Homo sapiens: one gene and its partners. The protein of the gene in region 5 purifies or fractionates together with the protein of the main gene of each other region. This does not show direct contact. Each region holds a gene or a part of one and is shown on either strand. Other genes may lie near its edges.

The links.
Region 1: the proteins of TRIM3 (region 5) and CD200R1 purify together in Homo sapiens (co-immunoprecipitation; one large-scale study listed by IntAct). This does not show direct contact.
Region 2: the proteins of TRIM3 (region 5) and NAP1L1 purify together in Homo sapiens (affinity purification with mass spectrometry, with the first as the bait; one large-scale study listed by BioGRID). This does not show direct contact.
Region 3: the proteins of TRIM3 (region 5) and ZNF276 purify together in Homo sapiens (co-immunoprecipitation; one large-scale study listed by IntAct). This does not show direct contact.
Region 4: the proteins of TRIM3 (region 5) and RPL21 purify together in Homo sapiens (affinity purification with mass spectrometry, with the first as the bait; one large-scale study listed by BioGRID). This does not show direct contact.
Region 6: the proteins of TRIM3 (region 5) and SAE1 purify together in Homo sapiens (affinity purification with western blotting, with the first as the bait; one study listed by BioGRID). This does not show direct contact.
Region 7: the proteins of TRIM3 (region 5) and SRP9 purify together in Homo sapiens (affinity purification with mass spectrometry, with the first as the bait; one large-scale study listed by BioGRID). This does not show direct contact.

The regions. Positions count from the first base shown.
Region 1 is NC_000003.12:112,933,604-112,937,936, forward strand, and holds part of CD200R1 (cell surface glycoprotein CD200 receptor 1 isoform a precursor), read right to left. Parts: intron 1-4,333. UniProt on the Homo sapiens protein: Inhibitory receptor for the CD200/OX2 cell surface glycoprotein. Limits inflammation by inhibiting the expression of pro-inflammatory molecules including TNF-alpha, interferons, and inducible nitric oxide synthase (iNOS) in response to selected stimuli.
Region 2 is NC_000012.12:76,053,122-76,057,454, forward strand, and holds part of NAP1L1 (nucleosome assembly protein 1-like 1), read right to left. Parts: intron 3,041-4,333; coding exon 2,912-3,040; intron 1,970-2,911; coding exon 1,898-1,969; intron 789-1,897; coding exon 649-788; intron 230-648; coding exon 84-229; intron 1-83. UniProt on the Homo sapiens protein: Histone chaperone that plays a role in the nuclear import of H2A-H2B and nucleosome assembly.
Region 3 is NC_000016.10:89,737,704-89,741,425, reverse strand, and holds the end of ZNF276 (zinc finger protein 276), read right to left. Parts: exon of another isoform or gene 3,706-3,722; coding exon of another isoform or gene 3,621-3,705; coding exon 3,521-3,620; exon of another isoform or gene 3,451-3,520; coding exon 3,180-3,450; 3' UTR 2,826-3,179; coding exon of another isoform or gene 2,718-2,825; 3' UTR 2,545-2,717; coding exon of another isoform or gene 2,452-2,544; 3' UTR 2,298-2,451; coding exon of another isoform or gene 2,137-2,297; 3' UTR 1,949-2,136; coding exon of another isoform or gene 1,873-1,948; 3' UTR 1,433-1,872; coding exon of another isoform or gene 1,327-1,432; 3' UTR 623-1,326; coding exon of another isoform or gene 560-622; 3' UTR 501-559; downstream 1-500. Other genes in the region: FANCA (Fanconi anemia group A protein), read left to right, coding at 560-622, 1,327-1,432, 1,873-1,948, 2,137-2,293, 2,452-2,544, 2,718-2,825. UniProt on the Homo sapiens protein: May be involved in transcriptional regulation.
Region 4 is NC_000013.11:27,249,651-27,254,663, forward strand, and holds the start of RPL21 (large ribosomal subunit protein eL21), read left to right. Parts: upstream 1-1,907; 5' UTR 1,908-1,935; intron 1,936-4,114; 5' UTR 4,115-4,126; coding exon 4,127-4,193; intron 4,194-4,569; coding exon 4,570-4,631; intron 4,632-5,013.
Region 5 is NC_000011.10:6,470,765-6,475,630, forward strand, and holds the start of TRIM3 (tripartite motif-containing protein 3), read right to left. Parts: upstream 3,178-4,866; 5' UTR 3,027-3,177; exon of another isoform or gene 2,894-3,026; coding exon of another isoform or gene 2,847-2,893; intron 2,485-2,846; coding exon of another isoform or gene 2,320-2,484; intron 1-2,319.
Region 6 is NC_000019.10:47,133,492-47,137,824, reverse strand, and holds part of SAE1 (SUMO-activating enzyme subunit 1), read right to left. Parts: intron 1-4,333. UniProt on the Homo sapiens protein: The heterodimer acts as an E1 ligase for SUMO1, SUMO2, SUMO3, and probably SUMO4. It mediates ATP-dependent activation of SUMO proteins followed by formation of a thioester bond between a SUMO protein and a conserved active site cysteine residue on UBA2/SAE2.
Region 7 is NC_000001.11:225,787,160-225,791,131, forward strand, and holds the end of SRP9 (signal recognition particle 9 kDa protein), read left to right. Parts: intron 1-2,080; coding exon 2,081-2,200; 3' UTR 2,201-3,305; downstream 3,306-3,972. UniProt on the Homo sapiens protein: Component of the signal recognition particle (SRP) complex, a ribonucleoprotein complex that mediates the cotranslational targeting of secretory and membrane proteins to the endoplasmic reticulum (ER).

The DNA of each region.
Region 1 (4,333 bases), on a different chromosome or scaffold from region 5:
CAAATCAACCCAGTAATTCTCCAGTAACATAACCAATTATAAGGCAATATATGAAATGCCAGAAGAAGAATTCAAAATAATAATCTTAAGGAAACTCAATGAGATAAAAGAGAATACAGATAAACAATTCAATAAAATCAGGAAAACAATTTGTGATTTAAATGAAAAATTCAACAAAAAGATAGCTATCATAAAAAAAGAGATTTTAGAGCTGAAGAAGTCAATGAATGAAATAAAAAATACGATTTTTCAACAACAGCATAGAAAACGTAGAGGAAAGGATTTCTGAACTTGAAGACAAGTCTTTTGAAATAATACATGAGGATTTTAAAAACAAAAAGAAAAAGAATTTTAAAAAAATAAAGTTTACAGGATTTAGGAGACATCAGTAAGCAAAAAACATTCACATTATAAAAATTCTGGAAGGAGAAAAGAAAGAAAAAGGCACAGAAAACATATTTAATAAAATAATAGCAGAAAACTTTCCAAGTTTTGGGAGAGAGAGAGAGATTCAGATCCAAGAAGTTCAAAATTTCCCAAATAGATTTAACCCAAATACATCCTCTCTAAGGAATGTTATAGTCAAATTATCAAAAGGCAAAGACAAAGGAAGAATGATAAAAACACGCAAGAGAAAAGCATCAAGCCAAATATAAGGGAATCCCCCTTATACTGATAGCAGATTTCTCATCAGAAACCTTATGGGCCAAGAGAAAATGGAGTGATACATTCAAAGTACTGAAAGAAAATAACTGTCAGTGAATATTATATCCAGAAAAACTATCCTTCAGAAATAAAGGCAAGACTGTCACCAAGCAGAAAAAAAAAATCAATAAAATGACAGATGTAAGTTCTCATCTATCAAATAATCTTGAATGTAAATGGATTCAATTTCCCAATTAAAAGATATAGACTGGCCAAGTGGATTTAAAAATATAAGACCCAGCTGGGCATGGTGGCTCACGCCTGTAATCCTAGCACTTTGGGAGGCCAAGGAGGGTGCATTACCTGAAGTCAAGAGTTTGAGACTAGCCCGGCCAACATGATGAAACCCCATCCCTACTAAAAATACAAAAATTAGCTGGACATGGTGGCGGGCACCTGTAATCCCAGCTACTCAGGAGGCTGAGGCAGGAGAATTGCTTGAACCGGGGAAGCAGAGGTTGCAGTGAACCAAGATCATGCCATTGCACTCCAGCCTGGGTGACAAGAGCGAAACTCCATCTCAAAAAACCAACTATATGCCACCTACAGGAAACTCATCTCACCTGTAAAGACACACATAAACTGAAAGTGGAGTGGAAAAAAGACATGCAAACAGAATCCAAATACAAGCAGGAGTAGCTATACTTACATTAGATAAAACAGACTTTAAGACAAAGGCTATATAAAAAAGAACATTATGTAAAAATAAAGGAATTTATTCAGCAAGACGACATAACAATTGGAAATATATATGGACCCAATGTTGGAGCACCCAGATATATAAAGCTAATATTATTAAAGCTAAAGGGAGAGATAAACCTCAAAGCAATAATAGGTGGGGACTTCAACACCCTACTTTCAGCATTAGGCAGATGATCTAGACAGAAAATCAAGAAACATTGGATCTAAACCACACCATAAATCAAACAGACCTAACAGACCTTTACAGAACATTTTATATAACAGCTGCAAAATACACATTATTTTCACCAGCACATGGAACATTCTCCAGAATTGACAATATGTTAGGTCACAAAACAAGTCTCAAATAATTTTTAAAAATTACAATCATATCATCTTATGTGACCACAATGGAATAAAATTAGAAATCAATAACAAGAGGAACATTTGAAACTATACAAATACATGAAAGTTAAACAGCATGTTCCTGAATGACAAATGAGTAAAGAAAGAAATTAAGAAGTTTAAGAATTTCTTGAAACAAATGAAAATAGAAACACAAAATACCAAAACCTAAGGGATACAGCAAAAGCAGCATTAAGAGGCAAATCCATAGCAATAAATCCCTACATCAAAAAAGTAGTAATATTTCAAATTAACATCCTAACAGCACATATTAAGGAAGAAAACCAGGAATAAACTGAACCCAAAATTAGTAGGAGGAATAAAGATCAGAGCAGAACTCAATGAAACTGAACCTAAAAAGAAATGCAAAAAACCAACAACAAAAAAGTTTTGTTTTTTCTGTTTGCAATATTTTAACTTCAGGGGTATATAGGTAGGATGTGCAGGTTTATTAGGTAAATGTATGCCATGGTGATTTGCTGCACAGATCATTCCATCACCGAGGTATTAAGCCCAGCATCCATCAGCTATTCTTTCTGATGCTCTCCCTCCTCCCACTCCCCACCCTCTGACAGGCTCCAGTGTGTGTTTCCACCCTCCATATGTCCATGTGTTCTTATCATTCAGCTCCCACTTATAAGTGAGAAAATGCACTGTTTGGTTTTCTGTTTCTGCATTAGTTTGCTGAGGATAATCTAATCACCTCCACCTGCATCCATGTCCCTGCAAAGGACATGAACTCATCTATACATGGCTGCATAATATTTCATGGTATATATGTACCACATTTTCTTTATTCAGTCTATCACTGATGGGCATTTAGGTTGACTTCATGTCTTTGCTATTGTGAATAGTGCTGCAATGAACATACACGTGCATGTATCCTTAAAATGGAATTATTTATATTCCTTTGGGTATATACCCAGTAATCAGATTGCCGAGTCAAACAGTATTTCTGCCTCTATGTCTTTGATGAATCACCACATTGTCTTCCACAATGGTTGCACTAATTTACACTCCCACCAACAGTGTAAAAGTGTTCCTTTTTCTCCATAACCTCGCTAGCATCTGTTGTTTCTGGACTTTTTAGTAATCACCATTCTGACTGGTGTGAGATAGTATCTCATTGTAGTTTTGATTTGCATTTCTCTAATGATCAGTGATGTTGAGCTTTTTTTCATATGTTTCTTGGTTGCATGTATGTCTTCTTTTGAGAATTATCTATTCATGTTCCTTACCCACTTTTTAATGGGGTTCTTTTTTTCTTATACATTTGTTTAAGTTCCTTGTAGATGCTGGACATTAGGCCTTTGTTAGATGAATAGATTATAAAACTTTTCTCCCATTCTGTAGGTTGTCTGTTTACTCTGTTGATAGTTTCTTTGGCTGTGCAGAAGCTCTTTAGTTTAATCAGATCCCATTTGTCAATTTTTGTTTTTGTTGAAGTTGCTTTTGGCATCTTTGTCATGAAATCATGAAATCTTTGCCTGAGCCTATGTCCTGAATGATATTGTCTTGATTTTCTTCTAGGGTTTTTAGAGTTTGGGGTTTTACGTTTAAGTCTTTAATCCATCTTGAGTTGATTTTTGTACATGATGTAAGGAAGGTGTTTTACTCTGCTCTCATGCTGCTAATAAAGACATACCCAAGACTGGATAATTTATAAAAGAAAGAGGTTTAATTGACTCATAGTTCAGCATGGCTTGGGAGGCCTCAGAAAATTTACAATCACGACAGAAGGGGAAGCAGACATGTCCTTTTTCACATGGCAGCAGCATGGAGAAGTGCCAAGCAAAAGGAGGAAAAGCCCCTTATAAAACCGTCAAATCTCATGAGAATTCACTCACTATCATGAGAACAGCATGAGAGTAACTGCCCCCCATGATTAAATTACCTCCCAGCAGGTCCCTCCCATGACACATGGAGATTATAGAAACTACATTTCAAGATGAGATTTGGGTGGGGACACAGCCAAACCATATCAGAAGGGGTCCACTTTCAATTTTCTTCATATGGCTAGCCAGCTGTCCCAGCACCATTTATTAAATAGGGAATCCTTTCCCCATTGCTTGTTTCTGTCAGGTTTGTCAAAGATAAGATAGTTGTAGGTGTGCGGTGTTATTTCTGGGTTCTCTATTCTGTTCCATTGGTCTATGTGTCTGTTCTCGTACAACTACCATGCTGTTTTGATTACTGTAGCCCTATAGTATAGTTTGAAGTCAGGTAGCATGATGCTTCCAGCTTTGTTCTTTTTGCTGAGAATTGCCTTTGCTATTTGGGTTATGTTTTGGTTCCATATGAATTTTAAAACTGTTTTTTCTAATTCTGTGAACAATGTCAATTGTAGCTTAATGGGAATAGCACTGAATCTATAAACTATTTTGGGCAGTATGGTCATTTTCACAATATTGATTCTTCCTATCCATGAGCATGGACTGTTTTTCCATTTGTTTGTGTCATCTCTGATTTCTTTGAGCAGCAGTTTATAGTTTTTCTTAAAGAGGTCCTTCACTTCCCTTGTTAGTTGTTTTCCTAGGTATTT
Region 2 (4,333 bases), on a different chromosome or scaffold from region 5:
AGAAAAGAAATTACAATGAATAAGAAGCTAAGCAATGCTTTTTATAAAACAACCGTTAATACTCAAGCTAAAACATTATTTACCTTCAGGAGGGGCAAAAAAGTTAAAGAAAGAGTCATTGGAAACTGTTTTAGTCACAGTACGAACTGTCCCACGTCCCTTGTGTTTCTGCTTCTTCTTAATAGTTTTCAAAGTGACATTCTTTCCTTTTTTCCAATCTATCTGGCACCTTGCAAAACAAAGAAGAAAAATCTATTACAATTGACAATCTTTCAACTGCTAAACTTTTAGAAGTAAATGTTCTATTTAGATTTCAAATTTTAGAAGGGTGAATTGCTTCAAATGTTTTCTATAGCAGTATAAAGGGAAAAATTTTATTTCTAAGCAAATATTTAAAATAAACACATTTACAATTAGCACAAACACATAGTATAATTTAAAGAAGCATTCCTCTGCAAAAATATATGTGAGACAGTCATGGGTCCAAGGAGAATTACAGGAAACTTGATAAGCACTTTTCAGAAAACATATTACCAAAATGTTCAGAGACAGACTATGTACATATGTAACTGAAAATAACCGAGTATACAAATCAAGTATAACAAAAACAGAAAAAACATTTTGTTAAGGTAGTAAAATTAAACTCACCCTGTACAACCCATAATTTCTGGTCCATCAAAAGAAAAGGGATCAGAATCATCTGGTTCTGACCTCATCCTGTATGTCTTTGTCAGCACTTCATTTGTAAAATATTCATTGGGTTCAAAGTGAAATTCTAAGACAAAACTCTGGGGAGAGGAAGCATAAAAATCAGTTAAATACCTACCTCACATATTTCAGTACTTTAGTAAACACAGCTTCATCTGTTTTTATAAATATTCTAAATGATAATTTTTTTTTCTACTCTGAAATACAATCTTCTTTTTGAGACTGAGTCTTGCATTGTTGCCCAGGCCGGAGTGCAGGGGCACAATTTCAGCTCACTGCAACCTTTGCCTCCCAGATTCAAGTGATTCTGGTGCGCCAGCCTGCCAATTATCTGGGATTATAGGTGTGTGCCACCACACCCAGTTAATTTTTGTATTTTTAGTACAGACAGTGTTTCACCACGTTGGACAGGCTGGTATTGACCTCCGGACCTCAAGTGATCCACCCACCTCGGCCTCCCAAAGTGCTGGGATTACAGGTGTGAGCCACTGCACCCAGCCATGAAATATTTAAGAATGGGACAGACTGTCAGATGAGCCCCAAATTATGTTAAAATCAAAAAAATTACGTTAAAATAATAATGAGGTACAAATTGAACTGAATAGAACTTAGTTTCAATTTACATCTATTAAATAATTAACATGTTTACACAACAGGCTAGGCATTCCTGAATAAAGTGACCATGTTGCCTCCCTTACTCCCCAACTACTGGAGGAATCAGGCTTTTAAATAGTAGACTAAACGTGAACTTGACACAGAAAAAGCCCAACCTTAAGCATCTACAGCCTATATTCTTAGCAGTTTTGCCCTTAGTTGACATTAATTCTGGTGGTTTGGTGGACAGCTTGTTGGCTGATCTTTCCTCATTAGGGAGTGGGCATCCTCTAACATCAGTTTTGTGTAATTCCCAAGCTCATGCCTTTTAATGCAGAAAAAGTACTTATTCATGTTCCCTTGGCATTATTTTTATCCACTTATCCAGGAACAAGGATTGTCTGTGTTTCAAACACAATTTATGATCAGAAGGAGGAAAAGGAATAAATACTGCCTCACAATTAGCAGCATCCAAATATTTATTCACTATAACAAAGAGCACCAACCTTACCCTTGAATGTTATCTTTTTAAAAGCTTCTATTTATCTACCTGTAAGCATGTTACAAAATTATAAATATTTCAAAGTTCTTTTACCATAGGCTGGCCAGCATCTGAGAACTTCACTTTAATATCTTTCAAGTGCTTCAGAATAGGTTCATCGTGTTCCTTCAAATTAAAAAAATAATAAAAATGAATAACATGGCATTCGAGGACTGTGTTCTGTTACTACACAAACACCAGCTGACTGAGACATAATATATTTCAAAGTAGTTTTGTATAGCAATTATGAACCTTAAGACTTACTCTCCAGGTTATGGCTTATACTAAAGCTAATTTATACTGTAGTTCTACTGCCACTGGTAGAGAAAAAGTGTCCAAATAGACAACTGAATTATTATATAGGTTGAAAAATCCAAAATCAAGTCTAAATAAGGCATATCTACTTTTAAAATGTTTCCTGATTGTAATTGCTGCCTTTTCCAGCTGCTTGTCCCCTTCCTCCTGGTCGTTCCTTTTCCACTTTGCTAAAGTAGAATTGTAATAAGCAGTAATTGTGTGAAGATCATTTCTTTTTCTCCATGTAACTTCCAACAATGACAAGACAGGGCAACATGTACTACTACAATGTAGACGGTAGGGGCTCACTCAAGAAATGCTTGAGGCAGTTTCCCAAAGGTGACAACAGTTATGGTTTGCCAGAGAATGTAACCATTGTGAATGAGTTTAACATCTTTATGGTATTCTTTTAAAATGCAAATTTCTCCTGGAAGAGTTAAGGGAATTGCATAATTGCAGCTATAAGATTAACTTTCCCATCATACTTCCATACTAAGTATGTAAAGACAAAAGGCACAGGGTTATAAGAAAACACCAGTCGATAATGAGCCATTATCAATGGGACCATTTCATTATCTCATTTTTTAAAATAAACTAATTTATTTGATTACATTAATCAAAGCTGTAATTTCTCTTCTACAGATATTAGCTATTTCAAAAGTAAGCAATCATTCTAGAAAGATCAACACTGAAGAGAACAGTGATCACAGCCATTTAAACTTCAAAGGTTTACCCTTCAAAGTAAACTGGTACATTTATGAATAAAATTACCTGAACCATATCACTGAGCAAGTCAACATTCTTAAAAACAGTTAACCAAAATTCAGGAATTCCTTTGGGGTCTTCTTTTTCTTCATCTTTTTTCTCATCTTCAATCTTGGCCTTTTCTTTCAATTCCTCCTTGATTAAGTGACAGCAAACATTATTTAATACATAGATTAGACCTCATGATAAAGTAGCAAAGGTATAAAAACCAAAAAGCACAGTCACCAGATATTACCTTCAAAGTTCTAGTCTATCTGTGTAAACACCGCCGTTGCCCATAACAAACCTTAATCCCATCAAAATTACTGCTACCACACCCCTCCAAAGAGAACCACTAAGGTGACCAAGATGTGTAGGAAAAACCATTTTAGTAAAAAAAAAATGTAAAAACTAATTAAAAATGAAGACTTAAGCATAATAAACAAGAAAAGCAACAGAAATACTAATTTGGTCCATTGCCTCACCCCATGGTGTTCTTAATCAAAACATTATATTCTCTTTACCAAACAACATAAAATAGCAATGCTAGAGAGGTGGAACACTTAACACAGCACTGAATGTGTGTCACAGCTCTGCCATTATTCATTGTGGGCAAGTCACTTAGAAGCCTCCATGTCTTCACTTGAAAATGGCAACAATCCTCAGCCTACCATGAAGTTAAAAAAAAAAAAAGAATATAATGAATCTACAAACTAAAAACTGTAAGCCAGGCGCAGTGGCTCACGCTTGTAATCCCAGCACTTTGGGAAGTGAGGTGGGTGGATCATTTAAGGTCAGGAGTTGGAGACCAGCCTGGCCAACATGGCGAAACCCCATCTTTACTAAAAGTACAAAAAATTAGTCAGGCATGGTGGCGCACGCCTGTTATCCAGTTACTGGGAGAAGGAGGCAGAAGAATTGCTTGAACCCAGGAGGTGGAGGTTGCAATAAGCCGAGACTGCACTCCAGCCTGGGCAACAGAGACTCAAAAAAACTATAAAAATAGGCTGGGCACAGTGGCTCAGTGGTTCAAGCCCATAATCCCAACAGTTTGGGAGGCTGAGGTGCGAAGATTGCTTGAAGCCAGGAGTCTAAGACCAGCCTAGGCAAGAAGACTCTGCCTCTACAAAAAAAAGTAGATTAAGCTGGGCATAGTAGCTTCAGATAGTCCTAGCAACTTGGGAGGCTGAGGTGGGAGAATAGCTTGGGCCCAGGAATGAGCTGCAGTGAGCCAAGATCATGCCAGTGTACTCCAGCCTGGGCAACACAGCAAGTCCCTGTCTCTTAAACAAAAAAACTATAAAATGTAAGGAAATAATGACTTTTTGAGTACAGATGGTGGTGCCAGGTTGAATAACAGTTCATCTGCATTATCATTCTTACAAAAAGGAAAAATATTTCCTAGGTATAAAAATACAACTGATGCTCTAGGGAGGCCCTGGCCGGGGA
Region 3 (3,722 bases), on a different chromosome or scaffold from region 5:
AGCTGGATCGACAGCAGCGCCCAGGGTTTTGGTGATTATAACCACCCTGCAGGGGTTCTTCTGAGTACGTCTTCAGGTTTCTTGTGTAGTTTTGTTAGAAGGGATTTTAGTGGCTCCAGGGCCTTAGGACCCTAGTGTGCAGCGAGGAGTGTCCACAGAGACCCTGCCCAGTCAGGCCCTACTTTAGGCTGGAGCCTGTGGGCTTATCTTCAAGGATTTTACAAACACTTCTGACAGGAGGCCTTGCAGGGAGATGATGCTGAGTTGGGACTGCGCACAGCCAAGGAGACCGCAGCAGTCTTCTCTTTCTGGCTCTTGTCACTTTTTCAAACTGTTTCTAGCTTTGTTTAAAGGCAAGTGTGAAATGACCCAGCCAGTAGTAATTAATTCTCAATTAAGCTGTCTCTCTAGAAGTGATTGGAAAGTTTTCTAAGATCCACTTAAAGGATTTATGGCCTAGATGTAAAAAATTTCAATTAAAGAGGAATGTGTCAGCCTTATTTAGAATGACAGCACAGGTAATTTTAATGTAATAATAAGTGCACGTTTTTATTTACAGCTATTGGTTTTCCTTTTCTTCTTCTCCTTGATGGGCCTGCTGTCGTCACATCTGACCTCAAATGTAAGTCAGACCTTACCAGCCAAGGTGTCCTCTCCCACTGTGGGCCAGGCAGGGGCACCAGGCAGCCAGCTTCCAAGTCAGGGTTTCCAGACTAGCTCAGGAGCTCCTTGTGTTTGCGGAAGTGTGAGTGAGAACTCCCAGGCCGTGGGTTTTTTTTTTTTTTTTTTGAGATGGGGGTCTCACTCTGTCACCCAGGCTGGAGTGCAGTGGTGTGATCTCAGCTCACTGCAACCTCAGCCTCCTGGGTTCAAGCAATTCTCCTGCATCAGCCTCCCGAGTAGCTGGGATTACAGGCGTGAGTCTGTCACACCCGGCTAATTTTTGTATTTTTAGTAGAGACGGGGTTTCACCATATTGCCAGGCTGGTCTTGAACTGGCCTCAGTGATCCGCCGACCTCGGCCTCCCAAAGTGTTGGGATTACAGGCATGAGCCACTGCATCCGGCCTGTGGGCCTTTCTTTTAATGTCTTATTTGAGGACGTGGTGCAGCAGCCTTGGTGTGGGTGCTCGAAGTCCCTGGCCTCCTACCTGAGCCTCTTCTGTCCAGAGGCCCAGTATTACCTTCTATAGGTAAAACTGTCACCAGTTTTAAGACTTACAATAAGCAAAGAGGAAATGCCCTCTTCTGTGCTGAGGGCTGTACCCTCCTACCCATGGGAGCACCAGGTCGGCCATTCTCAGGGTTGGTCTCCTGCGGTTTACAGAGCACCACAGACCTGCCAAAGGCTTTCCACGTTTGTGCAGCAATCCTCGAGTGTTTAGAGAAGAGGAAGATATCCTGGCTGGCACTCTTTCAGTTGACAGAGAGTGGTAAGAAACACGCTGCTGAGGCACAAATGCGGAGGGCCGCTCTTTTCAGAGGCATCTTGCAAATGGTTAAGAACGAGCCCTCCTTGAGGTTCCTTGCTAAGTAAGTTTATAAGCTCCATTTTAGTTGGGACAGATTAAGCACAAACTTGTTTAAAGCAATAAGATAATTTACTGGCTCACTGGTCAACCCCAGGACCAATGGGCCTATCATGGGGACTGCCTCTCTCTGCACCACACCCACCCTCCTGCAAGAGGTCGACCCCCCCATCCTCTCCCAGCTGCTGACAGGTACCTGGGTATCCTCAGCTCAGGCTGTTCGCCCCACACTATCCCCACAGCCAGGCCTCCCAGGGTACACGTCCCGACCCCCAGGGGTGTCCCCAGCACTGATAATAGGCAGAGATGTCCAGAGTTGCCTGAGCCACTTCTTGGTGTTGCAGACCTCAGGCTGGGGCGGCTCCTCCTCCGTGTGGCCCCGGATCAGCACACCAGGCTGCTGCCTTTCGCTTTTTACAGGTACCTCCACCCACAGGGCTGGTCAGGGCTGGGCAGTGTTTCCCAGACCCCCATCTCAGCACCTCTGGGTCCCGCCAGATGGGAAGGGTTGTCTGTGCCTCTGCTCCACAGATGAGCAGTATCCCTTGGCATCACCTGCTACCTTTCCAGCAGTCTGTAGCCATTTGTCACTATGTCTTTACCTCTAGTCTTCTCTCCTACTTCCATGAAGACGCGGCCATCAGGGAAGAGGCCTTCCTGCATGTTGCTGTGGACATGTACTTGAAGCTGGTCCAGCTCTTCGTGGCTGGGGATACAAGCACAGTTTCACCTCCAGCTGGCAGGAGCCTGGAGCTCAAGGGTCAGGCAGGTGCAAGGGCCAGTCCCACCTCCAGGGGAGCTCCCCCCAGCCGGAGGCTCCTTCTGCCAAAGAATGTTCCGGCACAGCATGCAGACTATGGGGGACACACCAGCCCTGTTTCTGTATGTCTTCTAACCTGTGAGTTTGCCTGTTTTCTCTCTAGGGCAACCCCGTGGAACTGATAACAAAAGCTCGTCTTTTTCTGCTGCAGTTAATACCTCGGTGCCCGAAAAAGAGCTTCTCACACGTGGCAGAGGTAACGTCAAGATGCCCACCTTGGGCCATGTGGGGGACATGAGAATTGACAGCTGCCTGGGCCATGTGCCTGCCTGGCTGGCAATACAACTCGACTATTTCTGCCAGAGCCCCTCCCCTGTGGTCTGAGGCCTAGTGGGCGGCATGGGCTGAGGACCTGCTCCTCTCTCACAGCTGCTGGCTGATCGTGGGGACTGCGACCCAGAGGTGAGCGCCGCCCTCCAGAGCAGACAGCAGGCTGCCCCTGACGCTGACCTGTCCCAGGAGCCTCATCTCTTCTGACGGGACCTGCCACTGCACACCAGCCCAGCTCCCGTGTAAATAATTTATTACAAGCATAACATGGAGCTCTTGTTGCACTAAAAAGTGGATTACAAATCTCCTCGACTGCTTTAGTGGGGAAAGGAATCAATTATTTATGAACTGTCCGGCCCCGAGTCACTCAGCGTTTGCGGGAAAATAAACCACTGGTCCCAGAGCAGAGGAAGGCTACTTGAGCCGGACACCAAGCCCGCCTCCAGCACCAAGGGCGGGCAGCACCCTCCGACCCTCCCATGCGGGTGCACACGAAGGGTGAGGCTGACACAGCCACTGCGGAGTCCAGGCTGCTAGAGGTGCTCATCCTCACTGCCGTCCTCAGGTGGGTTCGGGCTTCACCGCCTGGCCCTCTGTGGTCACAGAGGGGCTCGGTGGCCCAGGTGGTGGTTCCGCCTCCAGGGGCAGGGCCTTGTCCTGGGTCTGTGTCAGCGGGTGCACCATGGACATGTGTACATTGAGGTTGTGGGCCTTCTCAAACCGCCGGCCACACTGGTCACAGGCAAAGTCCAGCTCAGTCTCAGCCTTGTGTTTGGTCATGTGGTACTTGAGGGATGCCCGCTGCCTGCACTGGAACCCACAGACCTCACACCTGGGGGACAGAGGCAGATAAGAAGGTGCGAGGGCCACAGCCCTGGGAGGGGGTCCTGACTCACACTTACTGCAAAGGCTTGGCTCCCGAATGTCGCATTTGGTGGACGAGAAGGTGCTTCCGCTGCTTGAAGGTTTGTCCACATTCGTCACAGATATAGTTCCGCACCTCTGAGAGGGGAGAGTCCAGTGAGTCCAGGCCCCTGATGCTCCAACCTCCCGGGGGGACGACGATGACAATGTGAAACCATCACAGCTGGGAAGACATTTCTG
Region 4 (5,013 bases), on a different chromosome or scaffold from region 5:
GCAGAGGTTGTGGTGAGTCGATGTCGCGCCACTGCACTCCAGCCTGGGCAACAAGAACAAAATTCCCTCTCAAAGAAAGAAAGAAAGTAATGGGAAAGGAAAAGTGACCTGAGGAAGTGAGTGCTAACAGAGTGACTGTAATAATGAACTACAGAAAATTAAGTTAAAGACAATCTAGAAGCCAAGGGCTAATGGTTACAGTGAAAGTCTGGAGGAGTCAACGTATTGAAGGAATCAATACCAAATCCTATTCCTCCTCAAGTTCTTCAGCAAATGATGTTAAGTGCTGATGACGATGGTCACAGAATGTACACATTTAAAAAATGGTGCTGACGCAGTTCTTAGAAATTACAACTTTCAGGTGCATCAGGAGAGTGAGTCGAAGACATGCAAATTTCAAAAGCGACTGGACGATATTATTTATATTCAGTCTGATAAGGGATTTTGTTAACTTAGCTGACTTTTTAAAAATGCATCCTAAAAATACATACAATCATGAGAAAAACATGAGACAAATTCCATGATTAGGACATCCTACAAAATACATGACCAGTACTCCTCAAAACTCTCAAGGTCACCAAAAGTAAGGAAAGTTTGAGAAACTGCCACAGCCACAAGAGGCATATAAGGAGACATCATAACTAAATGTAATGTGGTATTCTGGATGGAATCCTGGAACAGAAAAAGGGTATTAGGTAAAACCGAAGGAAATCTGAATAAAATGTGAACCTTAGTTAATAACAGTGTAAAATATTGGTTCATTAATTGCAACAAATGTACCATATTAGCATGAGATGTTAATAATAGGGGAAACTGGATGCTGGGTATATGGCATTATCTCAATTTAAATAAACTACATTAAGAAAATAATATCTATTTTTAAAGGTGTAGTGAATAAAACAATGGCCACCCATATATTTAACACCCGGTTTAATAATGGTCAATACAGTTAAAGCCTCCCTTTATTGTCCCCTCCTTACCAGATATGACTGCTTTTCTCAACTTGATTTTCATTCTCTTGTATTTCTTGACTTCTTTAACTACATATGTATGCATAACTAAGCAATATATAGCATTGTTTTACAAGTTTTAGAGTTGAATGTATATGAATTGTCATACTATTTATTTTTCTACATCTTTCTCTTTTTGCCTCATCACATTTCTGAGTTCAGTCTTCTTTTATTGGCGTATAATACTACATCCTAACATCCCATAAGGTATTTATTCTGTTATTGATGGACGTTTCTAATTTTTTGCTTCTACCCACAGCGCTGTTACGTACATCCTTGTTCACTTACCAAAGTTTCTACAAGACATATAGGTAGGAGCAGAGTGCTGGGGTTTAGTAATTGAAAACTTTTACTAGATTTTGCCACATTGCTTTCCCAAAGAGGTTTTAACATTTGCGCACCTACTAGCAGGTGCGTATGTTTAGACGTGTGGAGGAGAAACTATTTAAAGACATACAAACTAGATAATATACTTGCTTCATTCTCGTTTGACCTTCGTACCCAAGCAATTATTTCTGCAAACAAACAAATAAACAACTACTAATAGCACTTCCCGCACCGCCAGCCGCAGTTTTCCCTGCGGAGACGCGGATACAAGGCAGCTTCCGGCGAAGGCGGTGACGCAAAGGATGGCGTAAGCACGCTCGGGACGACGGCGTCCTCTTGATCGCCCTTGAAGGCCCCTTTCCGGGCTGTCTGACACGATGCAAGTGTCAGCTTGTGTTGGCCGGTTGCCTTTCTTTCGCAAGAGGGGAAAATATCCTCACAGACTTTCTGTGTTCTCAGAGACGATCTTCTTCCCTAGAAAGAAGTCGCTTACGGTTGGCGTTTCCCTCAGGCAGCGCCGTGGGCAGCCCACAGGCCCTTGTAAGGCGCGCGCCGCGGCCCCGCCTCTTTCCTTTCGGCCGGAACCGCCATCTTCCAGGTAGGGCCTACGCGTGGCTCCCGGGCGCTAGGTGTTCGACAGACTTGAACCGCGACCTTGTGGCCTCAGAGGTCGTTCATTGGGACCGTGGGGAGACTCTCTAACCTGTTTGAGGTCCATTGGCATGGGCGGGTTAAACCATGTTCTGCCAGACGGGGAGCAGCGTGCGCCGGGTCGGGTCTGGGCCGTGGGCTGAGAACCGGACTGCGATGTTGCGGCCCTGCGGGGGGACATTTGCGAGAAAGACGAGACTGAGTCGCTTGGGGTGAGGCGACTCGAGTTAATCTTTAAAAGACTTCGTTTTATGTTCCCGTGGCTGCATCTCCGGTACTGTGGGTGGCCCCTCTCACATAGGCTGTGTGGGGGCCGCGTGGCCTGATGCCTTTCTAACTCCTTTCAGTGTGGCTTTTTTATTCCAAATCTTGCGATGATGTTGGGTGAGGACTTAAGGGGTAGTAGGAATGGGTTTAAAGTCAGGCGTCGGCTTTAATCTTCTGTGAAGCCTACAGGTGTGAAAACCCGGGCTCTCGGTCGGAGAGTGGGTCCCGGAGTCGTCCTGGGTGATGAACCCTCACTGCCCTTAGTTAATGCATAAGACGATTTCCGACTGTTTTTAAAATTTTGACCCCACATGGTGATCGGACGAAGGGAAAGTGTTTTGAGGTTGCAACACCAATATTTGCACCAAGAGGAGATACTGTTTTGCGAATTCTAGGGCAGCATGCTTTGAGTGAAGGGAAACATTTAGCCATAGTTCATCATTTTGTCTAGTTTGTGGACGTCAACAGAGTCGAGCAAACTGCAGGTTGCTCTTTATGGTGGATCCTAGTTGCCATGATTTTAATACTCTTACAAACTGTAAAGCATCGTTTTGAAAAGTGCCTTCAGTTTTAAGTGTATGGGGTCCATGCTTAAAATGGATTCCAAACTCAGAAAGATGGATCTAGTGGAGGATTATGGGCTCTGGAATCAGGAATGAGTTAACTGATTATGCCACTTGGTGATTCCACAAAGTGACTTGAATCTACACAGTATCACCCTTTGTGTACTAACTTAGCACAAGTTTTTGGAACTTTATACACATCTAAAGGCTTTGGGGATTGGAACAGAGTACCTGGCATTTAAAGGGTTCATCCATTGTAACAATGGTTTGACTTTGGTGAGTTAGGTGAAACATGTCTTCTTGCTATACAATTTTTATAAAAATGGTACTTTGGGAGCCATTCTTAAAGGATTGTTGGTAAACTTAGAAACCAAATTGTGTTAGAATATTGTCAACACGTCAAGCCTGACTGCTGTATTTTACCTTATGGTAGGAGTAATGGCCAGGAATGGCATTTCTGCCCTATAATGACTAAAGAGCTATCAAAACTATTGTTTTGGCCTTTTTGGGAAACAAAGGAAAGGTTAATTTCTAAATGCCTGTAGGTGAATTCTTAGATAATGATAAATTAGCTGCCGGTTACTACTGAGCACTTTACACGGGCCAAGCATTGCTGAGTTCTTTGTAGACATTACCTCAGCTACGAAAGTGTTCACCCCTATTTTACAAATGAAGATGAGAGATGAAATGTGGGTGTCCCAGCTAGTAAGTGGCAGAGCCTATGTCAAATTTAGGTCAATGATTATAAAGCCTGGGTTCCCCTCTCTTCTACCCTATATACGTTCGTAGTAAATAATCAGAAATGTGAAGTGGCTTGAGATTTCTGATAGTTAAATAGATGATGTTTGAGATACACCATCACGGAAAATTTGGTTGACAAGAAAGGTTTAATTCACATAAAAATGTAAGGCTGTTTTATTGTGTTCTCCACTAAATTATCTTCTAGTTAGTAATTACATGCCCTTGGCATTCTAAATTGGGTTCTACAGATAGAGTGTGGTAGAAGTCCTGTTGTGTTTTTATATTCTCATAGAGAAAGGGTACTAGTTTGGATTCTCGTATCAAGTTCTGCTCCTTAAGAGTTTTGATGTTATAGAACTTGGGCAGTTTTGCCAAAAGACCTTACTTGCTAAAATAATGATTTTTTAACCTTTCAACAGAACTAACTGCTTGGTGATCCAGCTTTCAGTTTGCAGTTCTCACTTCGCTACTGAAATGTGAACATTTGAAATTACAGGGGTTTGGGGCAAATGCCAGTTTTCAGTCGTATTTGACTGTTCTGCTTTCTGGTTTCAGTAATTCGCCAAAATGACGAACACAAAGGGAAAGAGGAGAGGCACCCGATATATGTTCTCTAGGCCTTTTAGAAAACATGGTAAGTAGGTTTACCTTCCTTGAGAGAAGCATGGCACACATTTGTGTTCTGTTGTGTTCAACATGTGTTGTAGTTCATAGAATGTGTATCAATAGAATTAAATAACTAGCGTCTACCCAGCTTATTTCGTGATAAGGTAAATAAATTACCAAAATTATATGGTGATTTTGTGACTAAGTATTGATGCAAGATTAAACTTTGGAGAGAGGTTGTGATTTAGTAGGCTGATTGTGCTGTCAGGAGAAATTGTCCATTGGGAAGATAATAAGCATGTAACCATCAAAAATGATATATGTGTTAAAAGCTAGTAAAATTGCATTTCTTTTACTCTAGATTTTTAGCCTTAATACTCACTATACCAAATTTATTTTTGTAGGAGTTGTTCCTTTGGCCACATATATGCGAATCTATAAGAAAGGTGATATTGTAGACATCAAGGTAAACATAAAATTGGGAAAATAACACTACAGAAGATAGAAAAGTTGGATTTAATCTAGTGTAGGAATTCAAATACTAGTGTATGTTGCATCTGTAAGAGTATAGAATGGATTTTTTTTTTTTTTTTTTTGGAGACGGAGTTTCACTCTTGTTGCTCAGGCTGGAGTGCAATGGCATGATCTCACCTCAACCTCCGCCTCCCTCCCGGATTCAAGCAGTTCTCCTGCCTCAGCCTCCCAAATAGCTGGGATTACAGGCGTGCACCATGATACCTGGCTAATTTTGTATTTTTAGTAGAGAAGTGGTTTCTCCATGTTGGTCAGGCTGGTCTTGAACACCTCGGGTGATCTGCTGGACTCAGCCTCCCAATGTGCTGGGATTA
Region 5 (4,866 bases):
AGAAAGGAGGGTCTATCACCAAGTCCCAAGGAACCTCAATATTTAAGAGATAGGCCCAGGAAGCAGAGTCTGCAAAGAAGATTGAGAAGGCACAACCAGAGAAGCAAGAGAATCAGGAAACAGATGTCATGAATGCCAAGGGAGAAGAGAACTTCATGAACAAGGGAGTGAAATGCTGCAGAGGTCCCATTATTTAAGCCCCAAAGAGGCTTTCATTAACCTCAGAGCATGTGGTTTTCAGGGGATGGAGGACAGGAAGCCAGATGCAGGGAGTCAAGCAAGAAGCTGATTGTGAACAAATGAAGACAGCCAGTGCTGACTCCACTAGATCCTGGACATCTGCAAAGGATGTGTTTCAAGGCTTTTCAGTTTCTCCAAATTCTCAAATAGCATTAATTTTCCCCAGGACTTCCTCCTACAATCTCACAGGATTCCCAGTACACATGAGTTACACAGTTGTGAATGGAGGTAACCAAGGCATTGTTGAAAATGGATGCGAGAGGTCAGCTAGGCTCATTTGCTTGCTAAAATAACTCACGTCTACTCACTAGCTTCCAGGTTTATCTGATCATTTGAGACCTCAAAAAAATGACAAATGACTGCAGGTTACAGTCTTTGGGCTTTCTCTGAAACAAATGAAGCCTTGGATGAGGCAAAGTCCTTAAAGCCAATGAATCCTTTAAATAAGATTAGCAGGGAAGGAAAGCAATGAAATTCATGGCCATCTCCCCCAACATTGCCAGACTGAGTAAAGTGAATGAACCATTCAATCAAACTTCTCTGGGCACACTGTGGGCCAGGTCCTTCAGCTGTGAAATAGAGACACAAAGCTGAATCAGACACACTCCCTGTCTTTCACAAGTTTTTAGACTAATGTGAGAAACAGAAATGGAAACACGTAACTACAATGTGATAAGTACCATGATATTGACATGTTCAAATTGCTACAGCAGCAAACTGGAGGAAGTACCTAACTCTGAGGATGGTACAGAATAAAGAAGGCTTCCAGAGGAAGGGGTATTTGAGCTGGGTCTTGAGAGACAAATAGGACATTGATACGTACATTGGGAAAACAGTGAGTAAAGAAACAGAAACATGAGAAACTAAGAAATATGGAACAGATGGACAAGATTGCAAATCTCCAAAAGGCAGAGGTTATACATGATGCTTTTACATCCTAAAAGCATAAAAATAAATATGCTAAAAATAAATAAATCTAAATAAATAAATAAATAAAAGGCACCACCACTCACCCACCCACACAAGCGAGAACCCTGGTAGTCTTCTCAATTACACCTTTTCTTTCACCTTTCAGATACAAGCTATGACTACATCCTCAATTCTGCCTCTGAAATTTGGCTAGGTTTAAAAAGTTAGGAGATCTAGGATCTAGTCCTAATGCTGTAACTAACTCCACTAACACAAGGTGAAACTCTAGGTAAGTTCCAACCCCATTCCCTTATTTGTAAATTGGGAGAAGAGGGATGTTTTCTCAAAATCTGAGATTCCCAAGGTTCCCTCTCAAGCCAAGGGCTTCCACAGATTGTACCATGAGCCCATGATTAAATCCCATCTTGTACTACCTCGATGATTTGACTTCTAGTTTCCACTGTTAGGCTAAATGTGTTAGAGGATGGTCTTAGTTGCCTCCCCTCCACACTCCCCCTGCCCCCTCGCCCCCGTAAATAAATGTTTGCTGAGTTTTAAGTCACCTGTGACACTCTATGAACGCTCTCTATTCTAACCATATGGTTTTTCTGCTTTTCTGAACCTGGGCTATACTATCCCAACGATGGACTCTTTGCTCAAGTTCTCTCGGCAAGAATGCCATTGTCTCCTAAGTGGCTGTGGCAGTACCTGGCACACAGGAAGTACTCAGTATATGTTGGTTACAGGAGAGCTCTGTTTAAATCTCTGCAGTTCCCTTTCATCAGAGAGAGATGCAAAAGTAATGGCAGTAACAAGACAAGTGAATAAAGTCCCAAGAAGAGAGACCTCTGCTTAATATAAGGAAGCTTTTCCACAGCAGAAAGTAGCAAGTGCTCTGTCACTGGAGGCATACAAGCCCAAGGAGGCAGGGCTACTGTCAGGCCTGCAGCTCTGATTCCAATTCTGCAGCAAATCATCCCCTGCTTAGGGGATGAATGGGCACCAGTGAGCTAGACAGACTGGCCAAGGGAGACCTGTGATGTTTTCTGCACCTGCTGTGACCTCCCAGATGTGATCTTCCTGCTAGGGCCAGTCCTGAGTTTCTGTTGTCCACATCAGAGAACCCCCACACCAAGAACAAGCCCAGGGCCTGCCCTCAGTCGAACTGACCTCCCTGGGGTGCAGCCTGCCCCTCCAACCTGCAACCATCTGTCCCTGCAGGTTTGCAGCCCAGGATCTGAAGCCAATTGCAGAAGGGAGGAGGTCAGAACCAGGGAGGGGCCTGGGGTCCTCCAGGCAGGGCTCAGGCTACAGGAGAACCAGAGGGGTCCTTTCCTACAAAAAAACAGCCTCCACATGAGGCTTTCTGTCCACAGAGCAGTGCATGGGGAGGAAAGGGTGTCCTCCATCCTGACTGGTGGGCCTGTGGGTACCAGAGGATGGAAGGGGCGGGGGGTGGGGTAGGGTGGGGGTGGGGGAGCAAGGGGTGGAGGTGTCTGCACCAGGGAGAAAAGAGCCCTTCAGACAAGATGGGCCACAATATTCCAGAGTCCCACTCAGCACGCACCACCACCACCACCCTCGGCCGCAGCGTTCAGCACCCTCCGCCAACACACACAAGCTCCCAAACCCCGCGCTCCCCTAAGGAACCATCACCCATCCACCCGCGCCTCCCCGCCTCAAAACAGGGACCTCACGTGAGCAGCCACAGCCCGAAGAATCCCCCTGCTGCTCTCACGGACATGGACACGCCTCACGTGGGCAGAGAGAGGCACAGCTTTTGAAAATCATCTGTGCCCCCACCCACAGACGCTCCGACCCAGACCCGGGCTGACAGGAATACAAACGCACCCTTGGGGCCCGCCCGTCGCACTCACCGCGTTGGAACAGGATGCGAGGGCAAAGCTCGGACTGCGGCCACTCTGAAGGGCCCGCGGCGCTGCTACTGCTGCCAGCGCCCGTCCGCCCGGCCCTGCCCGCGCCTCCGCCTGTCCCCGCGCCGGCGCCGCCGCCGGACTAGCCGCACAGGCCGGAGGGAGGGGCCGGGGCGGGGCTGCGGACCGGCCGGGGGAGGGGGTGACTCCAGTAGGGAAGACCCACCCACGCCCCGCCCGCCGCCGCGGAGGCCCCGCCCACCCCGCCTGCCCACCCCTACCGCACCCGCACGCCCCCCCGCCAACGCCTCCACCTCCTGCGGACGCTGCCTCCTTGGTGCTGCTAGGGAGCCGGCGGGCCGGCGAGCCGGATCCCGGATCTCGGATCCCGGATCTCCGCCAGCTGCCTCCGGCTCCGGGAAGGGCGGTGTAGTCGGTCTCAGGGATTGAGATGAGACTCCGTCAAGAAAAGGCAGCTGGGGCAGCAGGGATTTCGGACTCTGGGAGCCTGTCTGGGCCGCCTGCCTCCTGGAGGCGCCCTTTCCGGCTTCCTTGGAGTGCTCCTATGGAATATGCTAGTCTATCGGCTGACCAGGAAGACGTAGAAACCGTCTGTACCTCAGCACGATCTCTGGGCGGCAGAAGGGCAGTACCCAGAACTCTGGGAGAAGGAGTTAAGGGGTAGAAAGGTGGGGGATTTGATTAGGCTTTGGGCGCTTCAGGAGCCCCCTCCTGAGGAAATTCTGGTTCAGACCATCCAGCGACTCCCTTCCTCACACCAAAGACACTGGACAATTCTCAGAATCATCGCCTTGTGCAAAAAGCAGCCCCAAGTGGAAAATAATTGTAACAGTTTACAGGGACTGAGTGGTTATTATGTGCCGACACAGAACTAGCCACTTTACATATATTATTTAATAGTCAGTAGGTAGCATCTTTTATTAGCCCAATTTTACAATGGGAAAAAATAGGGATCTTGCTCCCCAGACGTTAGCCCTCATCACTCAGCTAGAAAGTGGCAGAACCTGGAGTTGAGCCCTGTTTTTAGGCCCTACAACCAGCATTTGGAGACTCGGTACCTTTCATGTTGAAAAATCCCCAGTGGCCCATTAAGTGGCAGCTCATATAAGGACCACCTTCCCTGCCCCAAAAATCAAGCTCTAGTCAGATGATTGCAGGCTGATCAAAGCCCAGAAGACTGTCTGGGAGCTGCAGTATCCATGACAAAGGGCAAAGTCATGCCTGTGAGGATCCCTGCACTATGGGAATCTGCTGAGTGGGTCTTCCCCTTCCTCCAGCCTTCCAGAGGTGGGGAAAATCCTGAAAAATTCTGGTTTCCTTGGCCAAAGGGCATACAGGTGATGACACCTAGCCCTGACTAAACCAAAGTGCTGTTAGGGATCTTTCTTGTGACCTCTCCACAAGGTTCAGATTTAGGCTCAACACCTGGGTGCAGCAGGAGCTTTGGGAACCGCCTCAACCTCTTATCCACCTGAGTTCAGCACATAGCACAAGATGCTCCAGTGCTTGTGAAGGAAACCCAGACGGGGATCATGCTTGCAGTTTTGGGCTGGGGCTACTATGCTACCCAAGATGAGGGAACTGGAGTCTAGATGACACTATCTTAAGCCTCAGAGGACTACTTTTCTCAACTCTATACTTCTCCCATGCAGTCAAATTTCTGCTTAAAACACTTCTCAGCTCCTTCTCCAGAGGGCAAAAGTCCTTAACCAGCCTGCAGTCTTCATCTAGCCACTCCCTCTTCATTTTTCATTCCAAGCAATTCCTCCCAGTTCCTACTCAGAGCCTTCATTATATGCTAGCCTCTCTGCCTGGGATGCTC
Region 6 (4,333 bases), on a different chromosome or scaffold from region 5:
CTCAGGAGGCGGAGGTTGCAGTGAGCCAAGATTGTGCCACTGCACTCCAGCCTGGGCGACAGAGTGAGAGTCCATCACAAAAAAAAAAAAAAAACAACACACACACACACACACACACACAATCAGCTGAGTGTTACGGCATACGCCATGCACACACAAAATTAGCTGAGTGATATGGCATACGCCTGTGGTCCCAGCTACTTGGGGGCTGAGGCGGGAGAATCCCTTGAACCCGGGAGGTGGAGGTTGCAGTGAGCTGAAGATCACGTCACTGCGTCACTGCACTCCAGCCTGGGTAACAGAGCGAGAAAAAAAAATTTTAGTTGTAATTGTCAACTATCAATAAAAACTCCAGAAACTTGGCCTCAATTTAAGCAACCAAATCTGCTCTAGGAAGCTGCTTCTTTACTTTATTTTATTTTATTTATTTATTTTTGAGACAGAGTTTCGCTCTTGTCACCCAGGCTGGAGTGCGATAGTGTGACCTTGGCTCACTAAAACCTCTGCCTCCTGGATTCAAACAATTCTCCTGCCTCAGCCTCCCAAGTAGTTGGGATTACAAGCACCCACCACCACACCTGGCTAATTTTTTTTGTATTTTTAGTAGAGACGGTCACCATGTTGGCCAGGCTAGTCTCGAACTCCTGACCTCAGGTGATCCACCCACCTCGGCCTCTCAAAGTCCTGGGATTACAGGCTGAGTCACTGTGACGGCCTTTACTCTCTTTTAATCCACAACAGTCCCTTCACTTATTTTTCCCATGAAACTGACTTTTGGAAGAGAAGTAGGATAACTGTCTTATAAAATGCCCCACAATTTGTACATTTTATCAGCCTGCCCATTTCCAGGGCTTCTGTTTCATAAAGGAACTCCAGTCTCCAGAGTTCTCCTATCCCACCTAGAACCCTCCTATCCCACCTAGAGCCCTCTTAGAGGCAAGTCAATTTGCTCTGTGGAGCCTCCTTCCTCATCTGAACAGAGAAGGAAATCACTGCCCTTCCGACTCCAGAGAGCTGCTATAAGACTCAGGTGAAGGCCGGGGGCTGTGGCTCATGCCTGTAATCCCAGCACTTTGGGAGGCCAAGGCGGGCGGATCACCTGAGGTCAGGAGTTCACAGCCTGACCAACATGGAGGAATCCCGTCTCTACTAAAATACAAAATTAGCCGGGCATGGTGGCACACGCCTGTAATCCCAGCTACTTGGGAGGCTGAACCAGAAGAATTGCTTGAACCTGGGAGGCAAGGGTTGCGGTGAGCTGAGATCACGCCACCATACTCCAGTCTGGGTAACAAGAGCGAAACTCCGTCTCAAAAAAAAAAAAAAAAAAGACTCGGGTAAAAATGCAATCCCACTGCTAGGTATATACCCAAATGAAAATAAATCAGGCTGGGTGTGGTGGCTCACGCCTGTAATTGCAACACTTTGGGGGGCCAAGGAGGGCCAATCACCTGAAGCCAGGAGTTTGAGACCAGCCTGGCCAACACAGCAACCCCATCTCTACTAAAAAATACAAAGATTAGCCGGGCGTGGTGGCAGGTGCCTGTAATCTCAGCTACTTGGGAGGCTTAGGCAGGAGAATCGCTTGAACCTGGGAGGTGGAGATTGTACTGGGCTGAGATCGTGCCACTGTCCTCTAGCCTGGGCAACAGAGCGAGGCTCGGTCTCAAAAGAAAAAAAACTGCAATAAATCCCATGTTTATTGCAGCACTCTTCACAATAGCCAAGATTTGAAAGCAACCCATATGTCTATCAACAGACAAATGGATAAAGAAATTGTGGTACACGAGGTCAGGAGATTGAGACCATCCTGGCCAACAAGGTGAAACCCCGTCTCTACTAAAAATACAGAAATTAGCCGGGCGTGGTGGCGGGCACCTGTAGTCCCAGCTACTAGGGAGGCTGAGGCAGGAGAATGGCGTGAACCTGGGAGGCGGAGCTTGCAGTGAACCAAGACTGCGCCACTGCACTCCAGCCTACTCCAGCCTAGGCGACACGGCGAGACTCCGTTTCAAAAAAAAAAATAGAAATTGTGGTACAAAGGCTGGGCATTGCTGTTCACGCCTCTAATCCCAGCACTTTGCAGGGAGGCAGGAGGATTATTTGAGCCCAGGAGTTGGAGACTAGCCTGGTGAAACCCCACCTGTACTAAAATATTAGCTGGGCTTGTGACACGTGCTATAGTCACAACTACCGGGAGGCTGAGGTGGGAGGATCACCTGAGCCCAAGAAGTCAAGGCTGAAGTGAGTTGTGATCACACCACTGCACTCTAGTCTGCGCGACAGAGAGACCCTGTCTACAAAAAAAAGGGAATGAGATCCTGTCATTTACAACAACAGGGAGGGCACTGGATGTTATTATGTTAAGTGAAATAAATCAGGCACAGAAAGAAAACTTTGCACGCTGTCACTTATTTGTGGGAACTAAAAAAATTAAAACAATTGAACTCATGCAGATAGTAGACTGAGGGTTACCAGAGGCTAGGAAGGGTAGTGGGGGGTGGAGGGGAAGGAGGGATGACTAATGGATACAAAAATATAATTAAATACAATGAATAAGATACAGTATTTGATAGCATAACAGGGTGACTACAGTCAACAATAATTTGTTGTACATTTCAAAGCAACTAAAAGAATATAATTGGATTGTTTGTAACACAAAGGATAAGTGCTTAAGGTGGTGGATACCCCATTTACCCTGATGTGATTATTACCCATTGTATGCCTGTATCAAAGTATCTCACATACCCCCAAAATGTATACACCTACTATGTACTCACACAAAAAAATTTTTAATTTCTAAAAACCTCGGCTGAAAATGGACAAAAAACACTTTAATAAACTCTCTAAGACTGTCTAAAAATAGAGTACAAATTACAAACAACCTCTTCCCTCCCTCCTGCAACCCCCAGCCAATCCTTTTCATGTTCTCCACCAAATTTGGTACAGCTCCACTCCCTCAGAATAATTCCTACCTCCCACAAATTCCATGCCCTGACCCTGACTTGTCCCTTAGGTCATCTCCCACTCAGAGGCCCCCATCCATTCTTCACTGCTTCTCAGAAAAATCATCCCCATCCCTCTGAAAGTTCCCTAACTACATTCCAGTTTAAACCTCACCAACTTTGCCCCACTTCAAACAAAGCTATCTGCTGCCGCAAACCCCTTCGATTAACCCTTCCAGTACCTTAGAATCCCCTCCCCAACCCTTTAGGATCTCAGAACACACCAAGCTTCCTCAAAGTTTCCTCCAACTCACATAAATCCTCTTTCCACTCCATCCAGAAAATAGCAGTCCCTAAAATCAATGCAGTCCACCTATGTCCAGAGGCACATTCTCATCACTTAATTCCCAATCTATTCCAGGTGCCTTCAACCCTCCCACCAATGTTAATGCCTCATGATGACATCCCCCCACCCCATCAAAGAAGACCCCACAGATCTGAAATGAGCCTGAGGTAATTCCCATCCCACCACTGCACCCTCTAAAACCTTCTGAAAGCTCCCACCCCCTCAAACTAAATTCTCCTGACGTGTCTGCCTCCCCAACCCCTCCATTAATTCTATACTCTGTACTCACACAATACCCACCATCACCCAAATTTTACCTCTGAACTCAACCCCTCACATATTTCTACTTAGTTGTATAAAAAAACAAATCTGAGGCCGGGCATGGTGGCTCACACCTGTAATCCCAGCACTTTGGGAGGCCGAGGCAGGTGGATCACGAGGTCAGGGGTTCAACACCAGCCTGACCAACACGGTGAAACTCCGTCTCTACTAAAAATACAAAAATTAGCTGGGCATGGTGGCGGGCGCCTGTAATCCCAGCTACTCGGGAGGCTGAGGCAGGAGAATTGCTTGAACCTGGGAGGCAGAGGTTGCAGTGAGCCGAGACCATGCCACTGCACTCCAGCCTGGGCGACAGAGTGAGACTCCGTCTCAAAAAAAAAAAAAACAAACAAAAAAAACAAATCTGAAACCTAAAAGAGAACTGACTCTTCCCCGACCCCACCAAACCTACAGCTCTCCATATCTTTCAAAATGGCAATTCCATCGTTCCAGGTAGGTGCTCAAGCCAAAAACAGTGGTGTCATCCTGGACTTCTGCCCCAAATTCTGTTCCCTCTTCTACCTTCAAAATATATCCAGAATATATTTATTTGACCCCTTCTCTTGAGTTTCAAGCCACCAATATTTTTATCTCAACTGGATTACTGCAACAGTCCAGCCAGAATCTTTACTTCCATTTCTGACCACTTTAACCTATTCTGGAGCGATCATTTTAAAACACAAACCAGGCCAGGCCGCAGTGGCTCACGCCTGTAATCACA
Region 7 (3,972 bases), on a different chromosome or scaffold from region 5:
ACACAGAAAAATTTTAATTGTGATTGTCACAGAGTGGTTAGGTATACTTGCTGAAGAAAAACCCCTATGTCCTGTCTTAAAAATAGGGGAATAGGCCGGGCGCGGTGGCTCGTGCTGGTAATCCCAGCATTTTGGGAGGCTGAGGTGGGCGGATCATGAGGTCAGGAGTTCGAGACCAGCCTGACCAACACAGTGAAACCCCGTCTCTACTAAAAATACAAATATTAGCATGGTGGTGGGTGCCTGTAATCTCAGCTACTTGGGAGGCTGAGGCAGGAGAATCGCTTGAACCTGGGACTGGGAGGCAGAGGTTGCAATGAGCCAAGATTGTGCCACTGCACTCTAGCCTGGGTGACAGAACTAGACTCGGTCTCAAAAAAAATAAAATAAGGGAATAAATGCAGAACGAATTTTAATACAAAAGGCCTTATCTCCAATTGATGGCTCTTTTTGCCCTGTTAATGATTGAATATAATTAAGGATCCATGTTAACTTCGACTTTTTTATAATCCCATGTATCCATCATTTTTCTAATCCCATAATTGATTTAGAATACTGTCTTCTATGGACCTAAAATCTTTTTCTGTCAGAAATTTCAGTGAGAAGGTATGTACATTCTCTCATAGGACATGTGCTAAAATTTTGATGATGAAGATTAATATGGCCTTTTTACAAGATTGCCGCACAAATTTGTACAATGCGTGGATAAAAATTTTTTTAAGTGAGTTGTTTAAAAGGCTCACTTAAAAAAATCAGTTGGGCATGATGAGGTTGAACTTCAAGTTATTTAAGTTGTTGACTTTTATTATAGGATCATTAGTTCCTGTTGTTTAAAACTCATGTGAACCTTTAAGATGGGCTGAAGAAAAGTGGATCTGTACTACAAAATGAGGAAAGGGCTGCCAGCTTAAAGTTGCTGTTTTTGAAGATTCTACAACAGATGGCTTTATGACCAACCATAAGCAGATCTTAAGTATCTAGTGAAGAATTTAACTGCTAACAAGGAAGAATTTGGTTTGATTTAAAAGTAATATCTTCAAGCCTGGGCAACATGGAGAAACCCCGTCTCTACTAAAAATAGAAAAATTAGCTAGGTGTGGTTGTGTGTGCCTGTAGTCCCAGCTACTCAGGAAGCTGAGGATCGCTTGAGCCCAGGACGCAGGTTGCAGTGAGCTGAGATTGCACCACTACACCCCCAACCTGGGCCACAGAGTGAGACACTGTCTCAAAAATACATACCTTCAGCAAATCAAGATTTTTTTTTTTTTTTTTTTTGAGACGGAATCTCACTCTGTCGCCCAGGCTGGAGTGCAGTGGCATGATCTTGGCTCACTGCAGCCCTCACTCCTGGGTTCAAGCGATTCTCCTGCCTCAGCCTCCTAAGTAGCTGGGATTACAGGCACACGCCACCACGCCCAGCTAATTTTTGTATTTTTAGTAGAGACGGGGTTTCACCATATTGGCCAGGCTGGTTTCGAACTGCTGACCTGGTGGTCCGCCTGCCTCGGCCTCCCAGAGTGCTGGGATTACAGGCGTAAGCCACCACGCCTGGCCAAGAAAATCAAGATTTACCTGGTTTATGTGTTGACCAGCTATACACAGAGAATTCTAGATTTTTTTCTAAAAATTATTATCAAACCCCCAATTTCACCAGTAGAAAAAGAGATCTTAAGATTTCTGTGTTTTTTTTTCCAGCATAACTCAGTTACTTATGGCTGGGAGAAAATATGTAGGGAGATAATCTAATACCTAATTCGAAGGAAGAAAATATCTAATTCTAAGTCTTGAGTTCTTCTCATCAGACCATAGCAGGATTTAACATTTAACATTTTTCAGAAGCTTCTAATAGACTTCATTCAGTTTTTTGTCCACAGCAGTGGCATTTAAATTACTGTACTTTAAGACATGGAATTGCTGGAGGCTTGGAAACTTGAGTGCAATTTCCCTAGTACGACCTCCAAGGAGAATAGAGCAAAACAGTGGTAGGAAAAACTCTCAAAATTTTACCCAATTGTATGTTTTCTACATTGTCAGTATCTAGTTTTATATAGTTAATATGTACTTCTAAAATTTCTGACAGTGTTTGGTGTATAAAACAGACCAAGCTCAAGATGTAAAGAAGATTGAGAAATTCCACAGTCAACTAATGCGACTTATGGTAGCCAAGGAAGCCCGCAATGTTACCATGGAAACTGAGTGAATGGTTTGAAATGAAGACTTTGTCGTGTACTTAGGAAGTAAATATCTTTTGAATTAGAGAAAGTGTTGGGACAGAAAGTACTTTATGTAACTAAGTGGGCTGTTCAGAAGCTTAGAGGTCATTTTTTGTAATTTTCTTTTTAATTACTTTAGAGAGCTAGGGATGCAAATGTTTTCAGTTAGAAAGCCTTTATTTACTTTTGGAAATTGAACAAGAAATGCATCTGTCTTAGAAACTGGAGATTATTTGATGTTAGGTAAAACATGTAATTGTTTCTCTGGCAAATTTGTATCAGTAATTTGAAAATGAGATATTAGGAAAAACCAATTCTTCTTAAATTTAGTTCATCTTTCTTTAAAAGAACATTAAATGTAACCATTTTGTCAGATCCATGTATTTTGGAGCATAAAATGTATGCTGTTGTGACCAATAAATATAAAATATGGTAATTGGAATTAACTCCACACCATAGTATGCATTGTTATACATACTGTGTACCTAATTATGTATAGCAGTGTAGTCTCAATTATATCTGAAAGTAATTGTGACTAACAAGTATGCTTTGCCTTATTTCCACATTTAAACTACCTGTTAATATAAGGGATTTGTAGTATCAGCTTGTTGAGCAATGACTTTGAATCTAGTTTTCAGTGATCAGAAGCAGCAGTTATTTGAGTGTATGAATGGAATGATGATCACTGTGCTATAATGTACTGAAACCACCATATTACAGAAATATTTACTACATATTTTCCATCTGTAGTTTCTCAGAAGGGCTATGGATTAGTTTGAACTGTCAAATCCTTGCATACTTCTGTGACACCCCTGCCCATTTTCTGTCTTTAATTAACCAAGGTGTTAGGTGTGACTGTCACAACTGTTATGTTTTCCAGTAAACTAGAAGTACGATATTTGATAATTATATTTGTATTTCACCACCTAAATGTAATGTTGATTCCTCAAGAATGAAATGAAGGCACTACATTGAAATATGTTTTGTATAAATTTGTCATGTTGAACAGCATTTTAGCATGGTAAGTTCCCTTAGCTATATGAATTTTGGCATGTTTCAGAGAGATCAGTAAATAAAATATTAGATAAAATATATATTGTTTGTGTTGAAGTTTTTAACTTTTCAGAAATTGTTGATTTCTGAGCTGGGATATACTATATTCATTTAGTCCAAAATGAGCCTAGTAATGCTGAAAGCAAATTTTTTGTTTCTCAGTACTTTATATTATATGACTTTCTCTGCACTATATGTTAATAGCAAGTTTGTTTTCTTGAATTAGAAAAGTAACATCAAATAGTATAGGATTATTTTGGCTTTTTGTTTTTTTTTCCCCCAGAATTAATGGGATCACCATCAGGGGAGGGGAGAGGCTTGACCTTTTTCCCCCTTATTTAACACTACAGAGATGACCTGAAAAGGAGAGACTGGCATTTGGGTTCTTTGAGTCCTGGTAGCGTGTAACAGAGTGGTTAAGAACAGACATTCCAAGTCAGACTGCCTGGCTTTAAATCCTGGCTCCACTATTTCCTAACTCTGTGGTCTTAGACTAGATACTTTTCTAAGCCTTCATTTTCATCTCTGGAAATGGGGCCAACAATAGTACTTTGCTTGTAAGACTGTTAAGATTAAACATCATGATCCAAGGCTGGGCACAGTGGCTCATGCCTGTAATCCCAGCACTTTGCGAGGCTGAGGTGGGCGGTTCATTTGAGGCCAGGAGTTTGAAACCAGCCTGGCCAACAAGGTGAAACCCCATCTC